Linked DNA regions of Homo sapiens: all the other regions are linked to region 4. The links come from fine-mapping of genetic effects on gene expression. A gene starts in region 4. Each other region holds a variant in brackets. All regions are shown on one strand. Distances are between the middles of the regions. Region 1 holds the start of LOC124903759 (keratin-associated protein 5-1-like). Region 2 overlaps TCF25 (TCF25 ribosome quality control complex subunit). Region 3 overlaps TUBB3 (tubulin beta 3 class III). Region 4 holds the start of TCF25 (TCF25 ribosome quality control complex subunit).

The links. PIP is the estimated chance that this variant, and not a neighbour inherited with it, causes the effect.
Region 1: its variant is fine-mapped to the expression of TCF25 in whole blood (TOPMed, PIP above 0.99).
Region 2: its variant is fine-mapped to the expression of TCF25 in whole blood (TOPMed, PIP above 0.99).
Region 3: its variant is fine-mapped to the expression of TCF25 in thyroid (GTEx, PIP 0.98).

Annotation. Positions count from the first base shown.
Region 1 is chr16:89,909,625-89,915,668 of GRCh38, reverse strand. TCF25 (TCF25 ribosome quality control complex subunit) reads right to left here. Exons shown (of 18, transcript NM_014972.3): 17 at 5,006-5,078; 18 at 4,290-4,589. The coding sequence ends at 4,431. LOC124903759 (keratin-associated protein 5-1-like) reads right to left here and starts at 4,010. Exons shown (of 4, transcript XM_047435031.1): 1 at 3,024-4,010; 2 at 529-2,437. The coding sequence starts at 1,568. RefSeq lists enhancers at 2,609-3,108, 3,109-3,610 and a silencer at 5,154-5,448. The variant G/A (reference allele first, on the strand shown) is at 3,025.
Region 2 is chr16:89,890,854-89,896,897 of GRCh38, reverse strand. It overlaps TCF25 (TCF25 ribosome quality control complex subunit), which reads right to left. Exons shown (of 18, transcript NM_014972.3): 6 at 4,623-4,705; 7 at 3,040-3,170; 8 at 1,761-1,860; 9 at 815-908. Among named protein-coding and RNA genes, the nearest start is that of TCF25, 20 kb to the right of the region's middle. The variant C/A (reference allele first, on the strand shown) is at 2,951.
Region 3 is chr16:89,924,025-89,929,630 of GRCh38, reverse strand. The region is part of intron 1 of TUBB3 (tubulin beta 3 class III); the gene reads right to left. Among named protein-coding and RNA genes, the nearest start is that of TUBB3, 3.5 kb to the right of the region's middle. RefSeq lists a silencer at 3,033-3,692 and an enhancer at 3,459-4,359. The variant A/G (reference allele first, on the strand shown) is at 2,878.
Region 4 is chr16:89,870,600-89,876,643 of GRCh38, reverse strand. It overlaps TCF25 (TCF25 ribosome quality control complex subunit), which reads right to left and starts at 3,052. Exons shown (of 18, transcript NM_014972.3): 1 at 2,785-3,052. The coding sequence starts at 2,976. SPIRE2 (spire type actin nucleation factor 2) reads right to left here. Exons shown (of 15, transcript NM_032451.2): 15 at 5,325-6,044. LOC112268179 (a long non-coding RNA gene) reads left to right here and starts at 3,156. Exons shown (of 2, transcript XR_002957933.2): 1 at 3,156-3,676; 2 at 4,723-6,044. RefSeq lists silencers at 2,268-2,737, 3,208-3,327 and enhancers at 3,408-3,567, 3,338-4,294.

The sequences.
Region 1 (6,044 bases), 39 kb before region 4:
ACCCCCGACGTCCACAGCACCTCACAGACCCAGACCCAGAGCCCGCTCACCTCTGGCCATGAACCAGTGAGCAGCCCCTGCCCCAGAGCACTGTCCCCTCACATTTCAAGGACGTTCGTGTTTGCAGCTCCACAATGAGGCCTTTGAGACGGACGGCGGTTAACCCCAGCCTCCACTGCTACCCCCCAGCCCGGGACTTGAAAGGGCATGAGAACTGGGCAGCCTTTTTCGTGCCAAGATGCAGCTGGAGGGCATCGGAAGTGGGGTGACCCTGCCACAGGACTCCCACTGTGGTTCCTCACTGGATGTGCCTGTCGGGGCTTCGTGGGAAGATGAGGCACAGCCGAGCTGCAAAAAGTCAACTTTTTGATGTGTTATGGTCATGGGGGAGATAAATTAGCCTCGGGATGATCTGTGATTAGATGACATCCTACAGCTAATCATATCTCGATTTTGGTCTCTTAGTGCCCCTGGAAACACTGCATGCTGAGTGGCCGGAAGACACGTGGGGCTGGCCCATCCGCTCACCAGGGTCCCCGCCACAGGCAGAGGCACCGTTCCTGCAGAGCACTTTCCATCCAGGTGTTTCTGGACCAGCGACCCACGAGGAGAATGAAGACAGACGTCTTCCTGCGTTTATTCAGTGTCTGGCATCCAGGGCCTGCAACACACACACAGGCACACACACACACACAAATGTGCACCCACACACACAGGCACACACACACACAAATGTGCACCCACACACACAGGCACACACACACAGGCACACACACACAAATGTGCACCCACACACAGGCACACACACAAATGTGCACCCACACACACAGGCACACACACACACAAATGTGCACCCACACACACAGGCACACACACACAAATGTGCACCCACACACACAGGCACACACACACACAAATGTGCACCCACACACACAGGCACACACACACACAAATGTGCACCCCCACACACAGGCACACACACACACAAATGTGCACCCCCACACACAGGCACACACACACAGGCACACACACAAATGTGCACCCACACACAGGCACACACACACACACAAATGTGCCCCACACACACACAGGCACCCACACACACAGGCGCACACACACACAAATGTGCACCCACACACACAGGCGCACACACAAATGTGCACCCCCACACACAGGCGCACACACAAATGTGCACCCCCACACACAGGCACACACACAGAGGCACACACACAAATGTGCACCCACACACAGGCACACACACACACAAATGTGCCCCACACACACAGGCACCCACACACACAGGCACACACACAGGCACACACACACACAAATGTGCACCCACACAGGCGCACACACACACAAATGTGCACCCACACACACAAATGTGCACCCACACACACAGGCACACACACACAAATGTGCACCCACACACACAGGCACACATGCATACAAGTGTGCACACATACATACGTGCACACACACACACAGGCACACACACACACACAAATGTGCACCCACACACACAGGCACACACACACAGGCACACATGCATACAAATGTACACACATACAAATGTACACACATACATACGTGCGCACACACGTTTACCCACACACGCGTGCACATACAAATGTTTACCCACACACGTATGCGCACACACAATGTTTACCCACACACGTGCACACACGTGCACCCACACCACATGCGCACACACACAGGCACACACAAATGCGCACCCACCCACACACGCACACACACACACATCTGCTCAATGTGTGCCCGAGGGCTGCGAGAGGTAAAACATCTCTGTGGCCCAGGGAGTGGCCTGTCCAGCTGCGGCCACAGACATGGAGGTGGGGGTCACCGCCGGACCAACAGTCCCACCGTGGTGGGCTCCAGTACAGCTCCCCAGGACAGCTGGACCCACAGCTGATCTCAGCCCTTGGTTCAGGGACCATTTCCTTTGAACTTGGGGGTGGGGGTGTGGGAGGTGGCAAGCAGGGTTTCTCGTGGGCTCACCGTGGTGCCTGCATTGAAGGCTTTGGGGGGTTCTGGCTCAGTGGAAAAGGGCCCGGCTGGTGAGCCACGCTGCCTGTGGGCACCCGGGGAGCCACGTGCGCCTCAGCCTCTCGCTGGGCTGAGCAGGGCCAAGGGAGGAAACAGGACAGCATTCCCCACAATCATGGCAGAGGCTACGCCCTCAAAACAGTCTTTCAGATCTCACGGTCATTGGAAGTAGGCTCAGCTGCAGGTCATGACATAAACCCCAGCACCACTGCCAAAGTGTCAGTGATCCAGCCACCTCTCAGGACAGCAGGCCTGGGCTCAGCCTCTGCTGCATTGTCCCTGGAACACCGGCTCTTCTCTGACTCCCAACCGTAGGGCGGCTGCTGCAGCTCCAAACATCACATCCCCTATTTGGGTGGACTCAAGGCATCTGGAATGGAAGAGGCAGGGGACCCAGGTCTCCTTGCTAGCCTGTCATTTTCAGAGAAAAGACCCTGAAGACTCTAGCAGACTCCCGCATCTCGATGGCTGAAGCTCACCACGGACCACCCTGGCTGTGGAGGGTGGGGACCTAGAGCAGACTGGGGTTATCTCCCAACCATCTTCCCTGGAGATGAGTGCAGATCCCCCATGGAAAAAGGGGTGGGTGGGACACCAGGAGGACCAGCCTGTGCTCCCCACAGGCTCCTGCTGACCACAAACATCGTTCACTCACTGCAGAGAGGAACGAGGCCGCAGCACCAACTCCCCGCCCCCATGATCTCTTCCTGCAGAGCGTGGGGCTATCACAGCTGGGACCTCAGGGCACCGCTCCTAGAAATGGCCAGCACAGGGCCAGGGCTGCACCCTCAGGCCCACGTCTGAGATGGGCACACGTGGCTCAGCCCTCGGGCCAACTCTTGTCATGGACACTGGGCCCTCGTCGTCCTGGGGAGGGTCCTGCACCCTAAGCTCCCGCCCAGGAAATGCTGAGCAGAGTAAGGAGACACCAGGAACTGCCAAAAGGATGAACTCACA[G/A]GCCTCGGCGAGCCCCAGGTTAGACGATTACACAGTGATGGGCTTTCTGGGAGGTGGGTCCACGGACCAGTACCTAGCTGGGGCTGGAACATGTTTCCTGCCTCACTGGCCGCCCTAGAGCCTCGGGCAGCCCCTCGTGTCTGCTGCCTCCTAAGGGTAAAAGATTAGGGCGGTGAGGGGTGCCAGGGGACAGGACCCCTGCTGCAGCCCTAACACCTTGGTGTTCTCGATCCTTCCAGAACCACGCTGGCTTCTGATGCTGTCTGGCTGCAGCCTCCGCCCCTCCTGCAGCTGCAGCACCGTGGGGCCGTGGGATGCACGGGTTCTGTGCACCATCAGTCAACTGTGCCAGGACCTGCTCCAGCTAAGCCCTCCCCCAAGACTGGGGTCTTGGTCCGAGTGGCCCATTCACCCTCAGACCGACTATCCCCTGATCTTTGCTACATGGGCCCTCAGAGCTTCCCTGGGCACTTCTCTGCAAAACATGCTTCTGGGGCTTCGCCTTCAATTCTGGGCACTGCCCTCAAGTTCTCTAATAAAATTATTTTGGCAGAGCCAGGCGCGGTGGCTCACAGCTGTAACCCCAGCACTGTGGGGGGCCAAGGCGGGCGGATCATGAGGTCAAGAGATTGAGAGCATCCTGGCCAACATGGTGGAACCCCGTCTCTACTAAAAATACAAACATTAGCCAGGCGTGGTGGCGGGTGCCTGTAGCCCCAGCTACTCGGGAGGCTGAGGCAGGAGAATGGCGTGAACCCGGGAGGCGGAGCTTGCAGTGAGCCGAGACTGCGCCACTGCACTCCAGCCTGCGCGACACAGTGAGACTCTTGTCTCAAAAAAAAAAAAGAAAATTATTTTGTCAGATTCAACAGATAGTGGCATCCAGCCAAAGGACCCCAACATCTCCACCCCACTTGCTTGGAGGAACAAGACTGAAGGCCGGCTGCCACATAGGGGCCTCTCTGCTCCAGCCCTGCCCTGAGACCCTCTACCAACAAGGCACGCAGCTCTGTTGACGAACTCCACAGCAAGTTCAAGGAGGACGTGCACCCAGGGCCTTGGCATTCAGCAGGGACCTGCACTGAAGACCCCGTGGGGCCCCTTCTCCACCCGTGCCCAGATCCTGGGAGCACAGGAAGCATGGGGTCTGGGCCCCACCTCACCCACAAGCCACTGGGAGGAGAATGGACTGAGTGTGATTCGAATCCGAGGGCATGGGACGGCGCTCAGTGCCTGCGAAAGGAGAAGGTGCGGACGGCAGAGCGTGACCCATTTACATTTATAGGAGAAACAGTGGACCAGGGAGCGACACACTCAGCTTCCCTACTTCAGGCAACTGGCCGACTCCGACCAACAGAGAAATCGGGAACATCATCATACGGCTTTTCGGTCACCTCTGCGGACGCTCAGTCCCACTCCCCCTCCCCCTCAGCGTCGTCCTCGTGCGGCGCCTCCAGGTCGTTGAGGTGGAAGTTGGCCATCATGTCGCGCACAGCCAGCATCAGCCTGTTCAGGCCCTGGTTGCGGTTCAGACCCCCAGCCACTCCTTCCTCGGGCCTCTCCCCCTGCAGCAAGGGGACATGTCTGAGAAGGGGGCTGTCTGTGCTGGGACTAGGGGCCCGGGGCCCAAGCAGGAGGCACTGTGGAGCCCGAGGTGGCCCTTGCCCCAGCACCGGACCCTGAACCCTCCCCAGGTCCCTGTGAGGAGGAAGCTCTCAAAACCAAATGCCGTGTCTAGACCAAGCCAGGCACAGAGTGGGATCAAGCCGGCTGACTCACGGCCCTGCATCTGCTACCATCTGGGCAGGCCCCAGTTTCCCCGGCAGAATGGGCACCCCACTGGCACAATGCAGCCTTGGTCCTTCCCTGCTCCCTGTGCCGGCTGGCACAGTCCTGGTTCAAGGAGGCTCCAGGCATTCGCACTGGAATGGATATGCCCGCACCCACTGGGGAGGCAGGGGCTGGGACGAGCTCAACCTACCTCCATGGTATAGTTTGGCAACAGTGACCGGAAGAAGAGAGCAATGGTGTTTCCATGGCTGATAGGACTTAGCCTGAAAGAAAGTCAAGAAAAGTCAGAAACGACACTGAACTGAGACTCGTGGGACCCAACCCGGCTCACGGGGCTGCCTGCCAGCTGCCTCCCTCGCAGGGACACGGAGGGGCCGCCAGGGGGCAGAGCAGCAGCAGCTGAGCACAGGCCCTGGATTCCCCGGGTGGCCCGTGAGGCTTCCTCATCAGCTTAGGGTGGGGCTGTGGACAGCGGGAACAGGATGAGGGAGACCAACTCAGCTGAGGCAGGCGTGGCGTCCGGAGCGAGGCTCCCACAGCCATCCTCGGCCACTGCACAGGTGCCTTGCTTTTCAGAAAAGCTGCAGTTTCAACGTCTCCTTCAGCACCCACTCCTTACGCAAAGGCAGAAGCTTCCAGGGCCTGCGTTAAGCGGAGACCCTCACGGTGCGAAGGGCTACCGGCCCGGCTCTACAGGACGCTGAGCGGCCAGGCCTCAGGAGCTCTAGGGAGGGCGAAAGCCTGGGCTCCACAGCGGAGGGAGGCAGCAAAGAACCGCGATTCCTCAATGCTGCAACACCCTGCCGGCAGGGATAATCACGACGACCGCTGTGCGGGTGACGGGGCCTGGGTAAGGCAAGTACTTTCCAGCCCAGAAGGAAAAGGTAAAAAGCCTTTCAATGACCCGGATTCTGAAAGCCAGACACACCGGCCGCCTGGCAGTTGGCCCTCTTGCGCCGCAGCCCTGCTCTCCCGGTCTGGCCATGGGGCTTTTGTTCTCTCAATGTGCCGTGTGCTCTGCTCCTGGCACAGGGCCTCGGCACATCGTGACTCTGCTGGGGAACACAAGGACCCTCTCCCCTGAGCCTGGTGAGGGCACATTCATCCTCTCCGTCTCAGCACAGCCACCATCCTTCCTCCAAACACCTTACTGGAGGATTTTTTTTTTTTTTTTTTTTGAGATGGAGTCACTCTGTCACCCAGGCTGGAGTGCAGTGGCGTGATCTCAG
Region 2 (6,044 bases), 20 kb before region 4:
GCACGCGCCACCAGGCGCAGCTAGTTTTTAAAATGTTCTGTAGTGGCCGGGCGCGGTGGCTCACGCCTGTAATCCCAGCATTTTGGAAGGCCGAGGCGGGTGGATCGCAAGGTCAGGAGATGGAGACCATCCTGGCCAACACAGTGAAACCTCGTCTCTACTAGAAAATACAAAAAATTAGCCAGGCGTTGTGGCACGTGCCTGTAGGCCCAGCTACTCGGGAGCCTGAGGCAGGAGAATGGCTTGAACCCGGGAGGTGGAGCTTGCAGTGAGCCGAGATCGCGCCCCTGCACTCCGGCCTGGGTGACAGAGTGAGACTCCGTCTCAAAAAAAAAAAAAAAAAAAAAATGCTGTTTTGAGACTGCATGTTGCCACGGTGCTCAGACTGGTCTTGACACCTGGGCTCAAGCAACCCTCCCACCTCGGCCTCCCAAAGTGCTGGGATTACAGGCGTGAACCACTGTGCCCAGCCAGGCTCACTTCTAACACAAACATTTATTTTTATTTTTATTTTTTTAAGAGATGGGGGTCTCACTATGGTGCCCAGGCTGGACTTGAACTCCTGGGCTCAGCAGACCTCCCACTCTGACCTCCACAGTAGCATCAGGCATGTCCACAGACAAAGGTAAACCTGGGCTGAGACAATCCCATCCCTCTATCCTTAAGCCCAGAGAGAGGAAGGTGGGTCACTCTGGACCTGTGGGCCCTGGTCCACCCTGGAGGGCAGCCATGAGGTGCCCACTGCACCTCCCCCAGCCTCACTCGCAGGAGAAGGGAAGGGGAGCTGCGTCACCTCCAGGGCAGCTGCACTCACCTGTTCTCGGGTCTGCGGTAATCCAGCCGGCAGGCCCCACTGGTGAGACTGAACAGGGGGTGGAACGCACATTCCATGCTGTACAGCGCTCTCTCTGTGGGCACAGGGACGCCAGGGGAGGGTGTCATGGCCACACACAGCAACCACGGCCCCTCCTCTGATAATGGACAACAAGGAAAGGTCTGGACGGAAGGTCACGAAACTAGAGTCCTGGACACTGAGAGGGCAGACATGCCCCTGGGCACCCTGGATGCCACGCTGCATTTATTTCAACCACAGAACTTGTGAGCTTGACATGGTAACACTTTCAACACCATGAGGCACAACTGCTGCCACGTCCTGACAGAACCAGGCGTCCATGTGTGCAGCACAGATGTGTCCACCTAAGACTGCGTGTGCATGCTGACGTAAGCACTATTATTTACAACAGCCCACACGGCCGTCAACTAATGATGGATACACAACATGTGGTCCGTCCACACAGTGGAGTATTACTAAGCCATAAAAACGAACGACGTTCTGATCGACGCTACAGTGAGGATGAACCTTGAAAACTTCATTGTAAATAAAAGCCAGAGGGCGGGGCGTGGTGGCTCATGCCTGTAATCCCAGCACTTTGGGAGGCTGAGGTGGGTGGATCACAAGGTCAGGAGATCGAGACCATCCTGGCCAACACGGTGAAACCCCATCTCTACTAAAAATACAAAAAATTAGCCAGGTCTGGTGGCGGGCGCCTGTAGTCCCAGCTACTCGGGAGGCTGTGGCATATATTAAACACCAACAAACAAAAACTTTAAATGGGTAAGTTTTGTGCTACGTAGGTTGTATCTCAATAAAGCTGTCATGGATATCCTGGCAACCCCTGTCATCTTACACCATCGCATCTGTCTTGATAGCTTGAGGTGCTCCCACAGCTGAGGGGAATGGGGTGGGGGCTCTGCCTTACCTACGAGGTCTCGAGCCATCTCCTGATCCTCTTGAAAGCGGCAGGCATCGCTGAGCTGCAGGAGTGAGTCAACGTGGTAAGGGCTCGTCTGGAGCAGAACCTACCAGAAGGGAGGACAGCCCTGGAGGAAAGGCACTCAGCAAGGCCCCAGCTCCCAGGCATGCCTTTTTTTCAGACATTTAAAACCAGCGGAGGCTGGGCGCAGTGGCTCACGCCTGTAATCCCACCACTTTGGGAGGCTGAGGCAGGAGGATCACTTGATATCAGGAGTTCAAGACCAGCCTGGCCAACGTGGCAAAACCTGGTCTCTAATAAAAATACAAAAATTAGCCGGGTGTGGTGGCGTGTGCCTGTAATTCCAGTTACTCGGAAGGCTGAGGCAGGCGAATCGCTTGAACCCGGGCCGAGACTGCGCCAATGCACTCTAGCTTAGGCGACAGAGTGAGATTCCGACTCCAAAAACAAAAACAAAAACGGGGGAATTACCGGGTCGACACTCACAACGTCCCCCCAACTCAAAATAGGCTAGTTATTATTGCTAAGCTGAACCAATTATATGACTTAAAGCAAGAACTCAGAACCTGACATGCCCAGGCCAGGGGCCACCTAACTCCCCACTAAGCCCCAAGAAAGAGGAATGGAAAGCAGCAGCCTGCTTTTCCCACAGGGAGATGACGGGGAGCTCTGCGGAGGCTGTCCGGGGTTGCAAGGGGAGCTGTCCGGCGGCTGCGTGAGGGCCGCCCGGGGGCTGTCTGGGGCTGCGCGGGGGCCGTCCGGGGCTGCAAGGGGAGCTGTCCAGGGGCTGCATGAGGGCTGTCCAGGGTTGCACCGGGGCTGTACGGGGACTGTCCAGGTCCGGGGCTGTCTGGGGCTGCGCGGGGGCCGTCCGGGGCCGTGTGGGGGCCGTCCGGGGGCTGCACGGGGGCCGGGAATCTGAGCTGCTCGCCTGCACTGAGCCGCAGGAGGCAAGGGCAGCAGTGAGAAGCCCCAGAGTCCTGGGCCTGCATCACACGGCACTACTGCGACGGTCCCCAGGAACGGCTGAGAGAGCAGCGCTCCAGCCTCTCCTCTGAGTATGGATGGAGCTCGCTTGGCCTAGAGCCTCCGAACACATCTCCTTCTGGTCACAGGGCCAGACCGCCCTGCAGAGACTGGCACCCTTCCTGTTGGGAAGGGCAGGAGGCAGCATG[C/A]CTCCCCCAGCCACCAGGGAAGCAGGCGGCCCAGGGCAGTGGTGGCTACATGGCCCCTGCTCCTGTCAGGGGCTGCAGGGACCACGCACCACGATGTTGTTCGGCTCCATAGACTCCACGGCCACCAGGAACTTGTGCTGAGCCTGCTGGTACTCCTCACTGTGCTCAAACGCAAAGAAGGAGAGGCCTTTTTTTGATTCCAGCAGCCGCATGGACAGACCTGGGAGGGGAGAGTGCTCAGGGAGGGTGTGCCGGGAGCAGGGACGTGGGCAGCTCCGAGCACAGCCCTCACCTTCGTGGTGTTCTGGATGAGGCCTCTGCGATATCGACAAACTTGACCTGAGTGTGTACTCATGGGTGTCACCAGCTCCGGACACCTTCCCAAAACACCCGCCGTCTGGTCTACACCAGGAGACGGCATCCCGTCTGCTTTAGTTTCCTATCAAGACGTGTTTGCCTCCAGAACTCGGATACAGCTCTAGCCCCACTGGCCTGGAGGGAATGTCAGGGACAAGGACACACACAGTCCACAGATCGCCAGATCTGACCACGCCGAGCACTGTCCCCAGACCACGTCTGATTGAGGAGAATGTCCGGGGTGGCTGTGGAAGGACAGGGTTGGAGTGCGGTGGCACAGGTGGCCACAGCGCCAGGCCTCTGAAGCCACAGAGCTTTGTAACGTGTGACCACCCTCTCACTTGGCTCCTCTTGTCTGACTGGGTGTATGGGACCCAGTTTCTTCTGATAAACCTGGAAAGCTCAGCCTCCCAGGACCTCCATGGACTAGGTCCCCTGTAGTGATACCTTCTTGATGGCCCTGCCCAAGGCCCCAGTCCTGCAGGAATACATGGCCATGGAACCCCTGTCTGCAGTGAGCAGGGGTTCCTGCCAGGAAGGGAAGGGGCCGTGAGCAGCGGGGTTCACCTTCTGACAGCACAGGCCTCGCTCCTAGATGTGTCCTTACAGAATGTATGCAGGCAATCTCCGGCACCCCCACAGACACAGGCGCAGGAGAAGCGGCCGTGGGAGCCATGGCAGCGCTGACAGCAGCAGCCATGCCGATCACCAAGGGCACCACACAGCTCCCTTCCCACAAGCTGTCCTTGCCCTGGCCCCTGAGGGCCCCCACAGTTCAGCCACTGCAGAGTGGAGGCCAGTGTGGAAGGCCTCCTGACACTTCCCCACACCACACAACCAAGCACCCAACACTCCATGCCTGTCTTCACTGTTGCAATTCATCTTAAAATCACTTATTAGTTTGCAATAATATACAAAATATTGCAGTTTAAAATGAACTCGATTGCTTCCATAAGGGAAAGGTCGATGGCAGAATGGTAGGAAGAACCTGCGTTAAAAGACAGTCACACAAAGACTGTGCCTGGGAGGCTCCGTGTTGAGGTACTGGGCCAGGCCTCCAGCACTCAGGCCCTCAGTGTGGCAACAAACAGTCACACACTGCACACTCCTGGAGCGCTCCTGGAGCAAAGAGTCTCGGCTCAAGAGGCACTGACGCCCCTGGTGCCCAGCGCAGGCCAGTGCACAGAACACACCCCCCCGCCGCCCTCCACCCCCAGCAGCCTCTGCAGACCCTCACCTGGTTTGCTGTACCGGGGCCAGTGCACAGACAACGCCCCCCAACCCTCCATCCCCAGCAGCATCTGCAGACCCTCACCTGGTTTGCTGTAGCGGGGCCAGGTGCTTTTAGGGGTGGTCAGCCATGTGCACTTGGGGTACACACGTTGTCTCTGCCGTGGCCTGGGGAGAACGGGACACAGGTACAGCTTTACTTCCTGTGGCGTGTGGGGACCAAGGCTTGGCTGCCTGATCCCTGCACGGGCTGTGGAAGCAAAACTGAGGGGCAGAGAAGGCATGTGGGGCAGGGTGGGGACGCATTAAGGACAGGATGCAAACAAGCGTCAGCAACTGCTGTGGGACGGGTGCAGCAGGGAGGGCCCCATAGAGAGAAAGAAACAATTCTGGCTGGGCACGGGGGCTCACACCTGTAATCCCAGCACTTTGAGAGGCCAAGATGGGAGAATTTCTTGAACCCAGGAGTTCGAGACTGGCCTGGGCAAGACAGCAAAACCCCATTTCTACAAAGGGTTTTAAAAATTAGCCTGGCGTGATGGCCTGCACCTGTGATCCCAGCACTCCAGCCTGGACGACAGAGCAAGGCCCTGTCTCAAGAGGAAAATAAAAAAAGAAAACGAAAAGAAAGAGAACAACGTACTAATATCCACATGCCCATCACTCAACTTAAGAAACCAACCATCTCTGAGGTAACAGCAGCTCCATGCCTTTTCCATGCTGCCCCACCTGCCCAGCTCAGATACCAGCTGACCAGTGCTTAGAGTGGGCCTGACCCCTGTGGCAGAGACCCCCAAATAACAGAGGTCAGGGCACTCTGCCTGAGCACACAGGCACCAGACAGGTGGGGCGTGGCAGCCGCGGCAGCACAGACAGCAGCAGCCATGCCCACGGTCACCATCAGCACGGTGCAGCTCCCTTCCCACGGGGCCATCCCTGCCCTGGCCCCGGGCTCCCCACAGTTCAGCCACCGCAGAGTGGAGGCCAGTGTGGTGGGCCCTCCTGACATGAAGGTGGCCCCAGCCTGCTTCTCCTGCCTGTAGCACACGCCCAGGCCTAGGAGAGTCAGCCCTTCAGCACTCTCCTGGGCCAGATGTACAGAATCCCAGGGATGGCCTGACCTGCGGTGAGCTATCCCACAAAACAAGTAAGGAAGCCTCCAGAACAGACCCAACGAGGCAGCCTGGGCAGATGCCAGGAGGGGGCAGGGGACAGGAGCCTGGAGGAGCTCTGAAGGCTGGCAGGCGCCCTGAGCAATGGGAGGAGTGTGCTGAAGTGCGGGGGCGATGAGCTGACCGGGCTGTCGTAGTAGGAAGTCAAGGACCCAAGAGAAAGCAGTGCCTGTTATTCTGAGCTTCTGAGAGAACCACCAGAAGGAGAAATGGAAACAGGCCAGGTCTTTGTCTTGGAGGAGCAGGACAAGGAATGAATAAAAAGGAAACTGTGGCTTCTCCATGTAAGTCTTTTGGTAGGACTTAAATTTTTAAAGAAATAAATAAACAAAAAA
Region 3 (5,606 bases), 53 kb before region 4:
GGCCCCAGACTGGGAGGAGCTTCTTCTCACGGGTGCCCTGTGGTCTTGTTGAGATTTTCTCACGTGCACACGGTAGCTTTTCAAAGAAAATTTGTTAAAAATAAATGTTTTTAAAACCTTAAGAATAAACATAGTGTAATTATTGTAACGCGGACAGCATGGACATGGACCACCTCTGCTAACAGTGTCTCGGGATGCCCGTTCACCCTGAGACTGTTATCAGAGGTGCCCGTTCACCCTGAGACTGTTATCAGAGGTCATCTCTCCACAAAGGTCAGGGGTGGATTTCTTTCCATCTTTTGTGCATTTTTGTTATTGCTAAGTTTTATTCTTTTTGCGTTAAATTTTTAAATTACAAAAATGATTCAGGCTGGGTGTGGTGGCTCATGCCTATAATCCCAGCACTTTGGGAGGCTGAGGCAGGCAGATCACTTGAAGTCAGGAGTTCAGGACCAACCTGGACAACAGGGCAAAACCCTGTCCCTACTAAAAATACAAAAATTAGCCGGGCGTGGTAGCGCGCACCTGTAATTTCAGTTGTTTCAGAGTCTGAGACACGAGAATCGCTTGAACCCAGGGGGCAGAGGTTGCAGTGAGCTGAGATCAAGCCACTGCACACCAGCCTGTGGGACAAGAGTGAAACCCTATCTTAAAAAAAAAAAAAAAAAAGGCCGGGCGCGGTGGCTCACGCCTGCAATCCCAGCACTTTGGGAGGCCAAGGCGGGTGGATCACGAGGTCAGTAGTTCGAGACCAGCCTGACCAACATGGTGAAACCCCATCTCTACTAAAAATACAAAAATTAGGCCAGACGCAGTGGCTCACGCCTGTCTGTGGTCCTAGCACTTTGGGAGGCCGAGGTGGGCGGATCATGAGGTCAGGAGATCGAGACCATCCTGGCTGGCACAGTGAAACCCTGTCTCTACTAAAAATACAAAAAATTAGCCAGGCGCGGTGGCGGGCACCTGTAGTCCCAGCTACTTGGGAGGCTGACTCAGGAGAATGGCGTGAACCTGGGAGGCGGAGCTTGCAGTGAACCGAGATTGTGCCACCGTGCTCCAGCCTGGGCAACAGATAGAGACTCCGCCTCAAAAAAAAAAAAAAAAAATTAGCCAGTGTGGTGACGGGTGCCTGTAATCCCAGCTACTCAGGAGGCTAAGGCAGGAGAATTGCTTGAACCCAGGAGGTGGAGGTTGCAGTGAGCCGAGATCACTCCACTGCACTCCAGCCTGAGTGACAGAGTGAGACTCCATCTCAAACAAACAAACAAAAAAATCAGCTGGCCATGGTGGCTCATATTTATAATCCCAGCAGTTTGGGAGGCCAAGAGAGGTGGATCACTTGAGTCCAGGAGTTCAAGACCAGCCTGGGCAACATGGTGAAACCCTGTCTCTACCAAAAAACAAAAAAATTAGTTGGGCATGGTGACGCATGCCTATAGCCCCAGCTACTCAGGAGGCTGAGGTGGGAGGATCACTTGAGCCAGGGGGGTGGAGGTTGCAGTGAGCCTAGATCATGCCAGTCCAGGCGACAGAGTAAGAGCCTGTCTCAAAAAAAAAATACAGAAAGGTCCCTGAGGCATTTGGGGCTTGTCCAAGCTTCCCACCTACTGCTTGCCTCCCTAACACTCTCTTTGAGGATCCCCCATTAATTTAGTTGCTGGCAGTCCACTTGAGTCGGGGACCTTGCTCCCCAAAGCACTGGGACACCCCAAATTTATGGTTCCAGGGAACCCACAACCACCAGCCCCTGTAAAGGAGGGGTGGAGAGAGTAACACATCTATGGGAAGTCCTCTGCAGAGCGAGGCACAGGGCAGCAGGAGCAATGGAGCAGAGTGGATTCAAGACCCAGCACGAGCACAGCTGTGGGCCAGGCGCGTGCCTCGCAGGACCTGTTTTCTCATCTGTGAGATGAACGTGTGAATGGTGCCCACATCCAGGCCTTAGCACAAAGCTTGACATGAAAACATTCAGCACATGTTGGCTTCATTTTGTTCAAATGTTTTAGATACTATTTAAAGTTTTAAAACCATATGCACAGGTCACTTAAAAAAAATGGACCAGAAGGATAGAAAAAGAAATTTGTTCCCACTTGGATAGAGAGAGGTGGCTAGATGGGCACCAGGTTTATCTGCAATATTTAAGGTTTTTTTTAACCAGGAGAATATATTAATTGCTTTTGTAGTTAAAATTAATAAAATTATAATTTGAGATAAAGTAATAAAATATATTGTTCCTTTTTTTTTTTTAGATAGGGTCTTGCTCTATTGCCCAGGCTAGAATGCAGGGGCATGACCTCAGCTCACTTTAACCTCTGCCCACCTCCCCCAGGTGATCCTCCCACCTCTGTCTCCCAAGTAGCTGGGACCACAGGCCGGCGTGCCTCCATGTCCAGCTAATTTTTTTTGTTTTTTATTTTTTGTAGGCACGGAGTCTTGCCATGTTGCCCAGGCTGGCCCTGAAGTGCTGACCTCAGGTGATCCACCCACCTCGGCCTCCCAAAGTGCTGGGATTACAGGTGTGAGCCACCGCACCTGGCCTATGTTACATATTTAATAAACAATAAAATATAATTTTATAAACTAAATTGTTAACATCACTACAGAAAAGGAAATCGGCCCGGCGTGGTGGCTCATGCCTGCAATCCCAGCACTTTGGGAGGCTGAGGCAGGTGAATCACCTGAGGTCAGGAGTTTGAGACCAGCCTGACCAAGATGGAGAAACCCCATCTCTAGTAAAAGTACAAAATAAGCCAGGTGTGGTGGCGGGCGCCTGTAATCCCAGCTACTCAGGAGGCTGAGGCAGGAGAATAGCTTGAACCCAGGAAGTGGAGGTTGCAATGAGCCGAGATCGCGCCACTGCACTCCAGCCTGGGCAAC[A/G]AGAGCCAAACTCCATCTAAAAGAAAATAAGAAAAAAGGAAAATTGTGGCCAGGCGTGGTGGTGAGCGCCTGCGGTCCCAGCTACTCGGGAGGCCGAGGCTGCAGTGAGCCGAGATCGCGCCTCTGGACGCCAGCCCGGGCGACAGAGCCAGGCCTCCTCTCATAACCAAAAACAAAAACCTGGAAACACAAAGCAGAACCCGGCGTTCGAGGCCAGGCGCTCGGCCCGGGCGCTGTCCTTGGTGCTGACCTCGCGCAGCGCTTGGGGTCCTGGGGAAAGCGGGGCCGGGCTTTGAGGGCAGTGGCCAAGGCAGGTGGGAGCGGGGGTCCCCGATGAAGGGGCTGCGAGACTGGGGCCTCCAAGCCCCTCCAGGACCCGAATGCGGTTCCCGCCCGGCCCGCGGCTCCGCAGGTCTTTCAGGCGAGAGGGCGGGGCGAGCCAGGGACTCCGCCTCCCATTGGCTGAGACGGCCAGGCCCCGCCCCCAGCCCCGCCCCGCAGCCGCGAGGAGGCGGTGCCGCAGCCCGCGCGGAGGACAAAGGCTCCCCCCTCCGCCGCTGCAGGCGAACCCCGCCCCGGGGAGGGAGGAGCACAGGCCCCAGGAAAGCAAAGCCCGGGGGTCCAGATTCAGCTCTGCGGCAGTGGGGCAGCGTCCTGTGTCCCGCGGGCCCCGGTGTTTCTGCATAGCCCGGCCCGCCCCTGCCCCCCCCGGGGTGACTGCAGGCGGCCGCTCGGCTTTCCGGGCTTCGGGTTTTCTCATCCTCCCGGCGGGCTGCGCCCGGCTTACTGCATCCCCGCGAGCTGCCGGGGGCTCGGCTCCCAGCGCAGGGGTGACCGCGGTGAGTCGTCCGCGCTGCCGCGTGACCGCCCGGGACCCGGCTTTGCTCCCGGCCTCGAGTCACCCCGACTTCCCTCTGCCCAGAGTGCACGGGCCTTCCTGCCCAGCCAGGCACCGCCCGAGGACCCCAGACAGGGAAGCAGCCGCGTTGCACCCCCTATCAGCTGCGGGAGTGGAGGCCGAGAACGGCCAAGGAACTTCCCATTGATTCCACAAGGGCAGCAGAGCAAAGGAACACGCTCTTGCCGCCCCCGCCCCCGAGAAAATTTCCTTCTCTGTTGCTTTCATTGTTAAAAAGAATCAGATACTATTATTACTGTGAGACAGGATCTCACTCTATCGCCTAGTCTGGAGTACAGTGGTGCGGTCATAGTTCATTGCAGCCTCGACCTCCCACGCTGAAGCAATGCTCCCATCTCAGCCTCCCAGGTAGCTGGGACTACAGGCGCGGCCCACCACGCCAGGCTAATTTTTTTTTTTTTTTTTTTAAGAAACGGAGTTTCACCATGTTATCCCGGCTGGTCTTGAACTCCTTCGCTAAAGTGATCCTCCAGTTTCAGTCTCCCAAAGTGCTGGGATTACATGAGATTCCTCATCCACCGTGCCCGGCCAGGTATTAATTTTTAAAAAGAAATATATTAAGAAAAAACAAACAACTCAAAAGGAATAAAAAGTAGCGGGCAAACTAAGAGCTCCAGTGTTCAGAAGCAGAGCACAAGGCAGCCAAGGACACGGTCCAGGGGACAAGGGCTCCCTCTGCTACCCGTGGAGCCTCAGGGGATGTCTGCATGTGCACCTGACTTCTAGATCCCAGCTCTTGCCTGACAAGTGCCTTGTGGGACCACAGCTCTGGGCCCATCCCAGCCATAGAAGGAGAAACCCCAGGTGGGCCCCAGGGCTGCCTGCCCTCCCTCTCCCCAGAGACCCCTGACCCTCCCAGGAGCCCCAGGGCTGCCTGCCCTCCCTCCCCCCAGCGACCCCTGACCCTCCCAGGAGCAGATGCTCAGGGGAGGCTTGGCCCCAGTGACCACATTAATGAGCCCTCAGCCCCTCCCATCAGGCCAAGGCAGCTGTCAGAGGCTGCTCCGGGAGTCCTGGTTTGATTTGAGGCCACTGTCCCCCAGGTCTCCCCTCCCCCAGGCTCTCCTTGGCAGGCACAGCTGTCTCCTTGGGTGATTAGAGTCTCCCCACTACTGGGCCTCCCACCCTCAGAGGCGCCTCCACCCGGAGCCAAAGTTGCAATTTACATGTCAGCCACGTGGCTGGCCCTGTTGTAATTAGCTTTTTGTTCCTGCCTGGTTTCCATGGCAACAGCCTCCGGAGGCTGCCTTTCTCTGGCCCCTTCCCCTCCAGGACCGTCTCCTGCACCCCCTCCTTCCCAGAATCAGCGCTGCACCAGCCCTGAGCTGGGTCCCTGGCCTTGGTCCTGACAAAGCCAGCCTCCCCCCCCGATCCCCTGTTCCCCAACACTGTTCGGAGGGCAGATCCTTTGGCAAGCAGCGCCCCCAACCCGCCCCGCCCGAGCCCCAGGTTGGCTCCTGCAGGGGATGAGAACCAAGGGCCAGCCCAGCTCTCTCGCACCTGCTGTGTGACCTTGGGCCAGGGACAGCCTCCCAGGACCAGGGGACACGACGTCCCCTTAATGATTTAGGCAGGGGTCCCTGCACAGCTGCACCAACGCCCCTTTCTGCGTGGCCCCAACATCTGCGAGGTGGGCTAACAATGGAGGGAGGGGCGCGCCACGGTGCAGCCTCCACACCCCACAGCCCGGCTTTGTTCCCACATCCAATCCCCAGACTGGTAGACCCTGGGTGGGCGCGGTCAAGCCCCGCGGGGGTTGCCCAGGAGCGGCTGCGCCGATGGAGAGCCTGGTCCTGGACCAAGGTCATCT
Region 4 (6,044 bases):
AATTTTTGTATTCTTAGTAGAGATGGGGTTTCACCATGTTGGCCAGGCTGCTCTCGAACTCCTGACCTCAGGTGATCTGCCCACCTCCCAAAGTACTGGGAGCTGCAATTCCAGCACTTTGGGAGGCCAAGGCGGAAGGATCTCTTGAGCCCAGGAGTTTAAGACCAACCTAGGCAACATAAAGAGATCTTGTCTCTAAATAAATAAAATTTTTTAAAAAGAGAAACACCATGTCTCTCACCAATGCATTCACATTCATAACCATTTAGTCGTAACTGGCTGTTTACTGTCTCCCATACTTCTGTTTATTAAGAGCTATTTAACAGAATGCCAATAAACATTTTGATTATATTATTTCCAAATATGAGTTTTAAGAGCAAAAAAGTATGGAATGCTTAAATTAAGACTGATGTGTGCCACTGGATAAAATTCTCTGAAATTCCTAAGAACACAGCACGATAAGCAGTCATTCATCCATGGAGGCTGTTAGTGTTACTGACACTCAAACTCACTCCAGAAAGTCCACAAGGGTTTGTGTGGTTTCTGACCTTACAGACTCTTACTCTGTCAACTCATGAACCACACTTTTTCCAAATTCCCACCAACACAAATATAAATACCAAAAAGATTAAATATTTAAATGGGAAAAAAAAAGCATTAAAAGAACAAGCTGAGCATGGTAGGGTATGCTGTAGTCCCAGCTGCTCAGGAGGCTGAGGCAGGAGGATAACCTGAACCCAGGAGTTCAAGACCAGCAACCAGCCTGGGCAACACCGTGAGACCCTGTCTGTAACCAAAAAAAAAAAAAAAAAAAAAAAAAAAAGCCAGGCGCAGTGGCTCACGCCTGTAATCCCAGCACTTTGGGAGGCCGAGGCAGGCGGATCACGAGGTCAGGAGATCGAGACCATCCTGGCTAACATGGTGAAACCCCATCTCTACTAAAAATACAAAAAATTAGCCAGGCGTGGTGGCGGGCGCCTGTGTTCCCAGCTACTTGGGAGGCTGAGGCAGGAGAATGGCGTGAACCCAGGAGGCGGAGCTTGCAGTGAGCCGAGATCATGCCACTGCACTCCAGCCTGGGCGACAGAGCGAGACTCCATCTCAAAAAAAAAAAAAAAAAAAAAAAAAAACTCACGTCAGGGAATATCTATGTGAAGACACTCTAGAGAGATGGATGTGTAACAATGAGAAAAGTGGCTCCAGTATCTTTCAGCACGCAGAAATTAAAGAAGTTAAAGAACAAACACAAACCGAGAAAATACGTTAGAGACAATCGATAGCAAGCTTCCACGAGCAAAAAGACTGTCCAAACCCCCTATAAAAAGGCAAAGATATAAACAGGTTGTCACAAAGAGAAATATAAATGGTCAACGAATACATAGCTAGGTGCTGCATTTCACTACCAAAGAAGTGTAAAATAAAATAATGTGATATCATTTTTCACAAATTACATTGACAAAAATTTAAAAAGACTTACGGGGCCAAGCACAGTGGCTCATGCCTCTAATGCCAACACTCTGAGAGGCCAAGGTGAGAGGACTATTTGAGCCCAGGAGTTCAAGGTTGCAGTGAGCTAGGATTGTGCCAATGCACTCCAGCCTGGGCAACAGAGCAAGATTCCATCTCAAAACAAAAAGCTTTCAGTAACTGCTGTGAATCTAGCAAATTACTGAACCTTGACGGGGGTCTTGGGGACCACTAAAGGTGGACTTGATGCGAGAAGGGCAGTCAACCAAGCATGGTGACTCACGCCTGTAGTCCCAGCACTTTGTGAGGCTGAGGTGGACAGATTGTTTGAGCGCAGAAGTTCTAGACCAGCCTGGGCAACAAGGCGAAAACTCTTCTCTACAAAAAAGAAAAAAAAAAAAAATTAGCCGGGCGTGGTGACATCCACCTGTAGTCCTAGATACTCAGGAGGCTGAGGTGGGAGGATCGCAGAGCCCGCAGAGGCAGAGTTACAGACGGAGGCCAGGGCTTAGGAGAAAACGTCACAGGACCGCATGAGCAAACCATACAGTCAAACTGTTACTTCCCTGTGCCAGAAACGAGCTGCCGGAGATGCAGCAAAGAGTAAGACTAATCCGCTGGGTTAGGCTGATGGGGATGCGCGAAGAGCAAGGCCCTGGGTTAGGCAGAGTTGTTGTGAGGATTAAAGCAGAATGCTCGCAGAGGCCTGGCAAGTCCTCAACCCTGGAACCGAGAGAAGGCCCCTCTAGACTCGAGAAAGGGAAGCCCCACCCGACTCCTGCCCCTACGCCGTGGCCCCACCCCCACGGTGGCCCCAGGCCTCATTTAACCCCGCCCACGCCATCGCCTCGCCACCCCCCCGTCTTTAGCCACGCCCTTTAGCGTCACGGCCCCACGACAGCCACGTGGCCGCAGGCCCATTTAATCCCGCCCACGTCGTGGCCCGGCCCCGCGGACGTTGGCCACGCCCTTGGCATCAAGGCCCCGCACCCTCCACAACCCGGACCCCGCTTAACCCCGCCCATTCGGTCGCCCCGCCCCGACAGCACGGCCCCGCCCCATCCCTTAGCCCCGCCCACCTCACCGGGGTTAGAACCCAGTCTAACTCCGCGGCCCGCCGTCTTCACCCCACGCCACCGCCCACCCGCGTCGCCCTGGCCCCGACGCACGGCCCCGCCCTCCCCACTGCGGCTGGGACCCACGTCACCCTTCCCACCCCTGGCATCACAACCCCGCTCCCCGACCCGGCTGGACGCTCGCCCCGCCCCACAACGTCAAGGGCCACCCCACCCCCACCCGGGCCGCCGCGCTCCTCACCAGCTCGAAGCGGTTGTTGACTCGGACGCCCTCCTTCCCTGCGCCCCCGGGACGCCGGACACCAAGCTCCCGCTTGGGCCCTTCTTCTTCCGCGTCATCGTCATCACGGAGATCGAAATGCAAGGCGCCGGGCCCGAGGGGCTCCTGGCCGCGCTGTTCCCCCCTCAGCCTCCGGAGGGCCCGGCGCGACATAGGACCGAACGACCACGACGTCTGGAGAGAGGGAGAAGGAAGCGCAGAAAACTCGGCTGTCGGCGCGCCTGCGCACTCTTCGCGCGGGGTCGGGGGCGGGGGAGCTGGCTGCGCGCCTGCGCACTCTTGGCGCGAGGGGTGGGGGCAGGACCTGGCTGCGGCGCCTGCGCGTCGCGGCTCTCCGGAACTTTCCCGCTTCAGCGGCGGCGTCTGGGCGGGCTCCGGGGGGTCCGGGCCAGGTCTCTGGAGAGCTGGGTGTCTGCGCGCCGTGCGCACCGGGCATGGAGAGGTGCCCCGCGGGGATGACGGGCTTCGATTCGGGGTAACGGGCGCGCAGCCGGCGACAGTCGGCCCTGCCCGGCCTTGCCCATCCATGTGGCCCGGAACCCGCAGCCGCGTTCTGCCCGCCGGGGCCTGTCCCCGCACCGTGCCTGCAGCATTTCAGCTGCGTCCCGGACGTTGCTAGTTGGTCCTTTTCGTGTCAGGGTGTCATTCGAGTGATCTAGCCGTCGATGCCCGCCTCTGCCCTGGAGCCGCCGCCCCTCGAGCAGCATTGAGTGACGCGGCCCTTACTGCCCGCCCGAGGCCTCTTTAGGGACAGTGGTTCTGACAGTTCTAGGACAGGCCGCCCGCGTTTGTCACGATCTAAGGGCCGGGCGCGGTGCTCACGCTTGTAATCCCAGCACTTTGGGAGGCCAAGGTGGGCGAATCACCTGAGGTCGGGAATTCGAGACCAGGTTGGGCAACACGGTGAAACTCCCTCTACTAAAAATACAAAAATTAGCTGGGCGTGGCTGCGCACGCCTGTAATCCCAGCTACTCGGGAGGCTGAGGCTGCAGTGAGCCGAGATCGCGCCACTGCACTCCAGCCTGGGCGACAGAGCCAGACCCTGTCTCAAAAAAATGAAAAAAATAAAGTAGATGAGGCTGAGACAGTGCTGGGTTCAGTGGGCGGAGGGCACAGCTTCCTGTGCCTGGGGTTGGGGACATGGGGACAGGAGGGCATAGAGAAGACAGGTGCCAGCAGCCTCCTGCCCGACTTACTGCGGCTTCATGAGCACAAGCAGCAGCCCTGGTGAGCCGGCCTGGCCCCTCCCAGGATGGGTTAGGGTTTTATTTTATTTTGTGAGATGAGGTCTTGCTCTGTTGCCCAGGCTGGAGTGCAGTGGCGCAATCTCGGCTCACTGCAACCTCCATCTCCCAGGCTCAAGCACTTCTCCTGTCTCAGCCTCCCGAGTAGCTGGGACTACAGGCATGTGCCACCATGCCCGGCTAATTTTTGTACTCAGTAGAGATGGGGTTTCACCATGTTGGCCAGGCTGGTCTCGAACTCCTGACCTCAAGTGATCTGCCCACCTCACCCTCCAAAAGTGCTGGGATTACAGGTGTGAGCCACTGCACCTGCCGTGGTTTAGGGTTTTAACGTGGGCTTTCATTTCCAAGTGTTCCTGTATGAATTACAACCCAGTCTCCCCATGATAGGGAGTGTGAGTCCCCGTAGAACCAGAACAACCGTCGTCCTTACCAAGCACTACACATTAGCTTATTGCTGGCTGTGTGACCGGAGGAGTTCCCTGACCCTCTCTGTGCCTGTTTTCTTATTTTTAAACAGGAATAAAAATACAGGCCAGAGAGTCCGTGAAATGCTTACACGCATGCTAGAAGCTGGCTGTTTTTACTGGGGGCTCTAATTTTGTGTGTTTGGATTTCCTGGACCCCAGCTGACAGGAGTATTTTCTCCCGCAGGCCCATCAGTTACAAGTCCTGTCCCTTCTGACCTCCAGGCCCCACGGCTAGCATTACAGCCTGGAGTCAAAGTTCTGGGTGAGCTGTGTATCTTTGGCCAAATTCTTTGACCTCGTTGAGCCTCAGTTCCCTCATCTGTAAGGTAAGATGACGGCAGAACGTCACGGAGGAGCAGGGCAGGGCCCCGTTAACAGGCTGAGCCGGGCGCAGGTGAGCAGACAGCACTCGGCACAGGGCCTGTCTAGAGCCTGCAGTCACACCTCCTGCCCCTGTGGATCCTCTCCCTGGAGAACGAGAATACGGATCTGGGAAATGAGACCAAAGTACCCCCCAGGCCAGCAGGTGTGGCCAGAGGAGCTGATGGGCAGTAGTCTGTGCCGTCCGCATGCAGCCCTGACCATGGTGGCCAGGACCACGAAGCTGGTAGAGGCAGCCAGGGCTGCGTGGACAGAGCAGGCCTGGAGCCCTTGCCTGGTGGGCACCTGACTCTAAGCCAGGAGGCCTTTCCTCGTCCTGGAAGGCAGGTGGCCCCTCAAGCCCAGCTTCAACCTTGGGAGAACATGCCATGCTGGGTGAATCCTCAGCGCACATCCCAGACAGAAGACTGTGAGACCTCCTTTATTAGGCCAAGAGTGGCCATGTGCACAGATTTACAGAGCTGCTCCTCCCTGTGCCAGGACCGCCCAGCATCTTCAGGAGCCTCTGGGCCAGGGGCGAGTGAGGACAGCACCAGAATGTGGTAGGGCCAGGAGAGGCAGGACACATGTGGTTTGGACCCCAGGGAAAGGGAAAGGGCAAGGGCAGGGAGCAGCTTGGCACGGACCTTTTTTTTTTTCGAGACAGAGTCTCGCTCTGTCGCCCAGGCTGGAGTGCAGTGGTGCAATCTCGGCTCACTGCAACCTACACCTCCCGGGTTCAAGCGATTCTCCTGCCTCAGCCTCCCCTGTAGCTGGGATTACAGGTTCCTGCCACTATACCTGGCTAATTTTTGCATTTTCAGTAGAGACAACATTTCATCATGTTGGCCAGGCTGGTCTCAAACTCCTGACCTCAGGTGATCCTCCCTCCTCGGCCTCCCAAAGTGCTGGAATTACAGGCCTGAACCACCACGCCTGGCCAGACCTTTCAAACAGGTGGGGGTGCCTCCCAGGAGGACCCTGCCTACTCAGAGACTTCCCAGATGCCTCTGCTGCCTGAGTCCCCACAAAGGGAGAGCAGAGGCAAGCAGGGCACTCTGGTCCAGCTGGGAGCCAAGATACCCTGTCCCCACCTAGACGTCCACTGGGGAAGGGAAACTGCCGTTCGCATTCCTGGGGACGGAG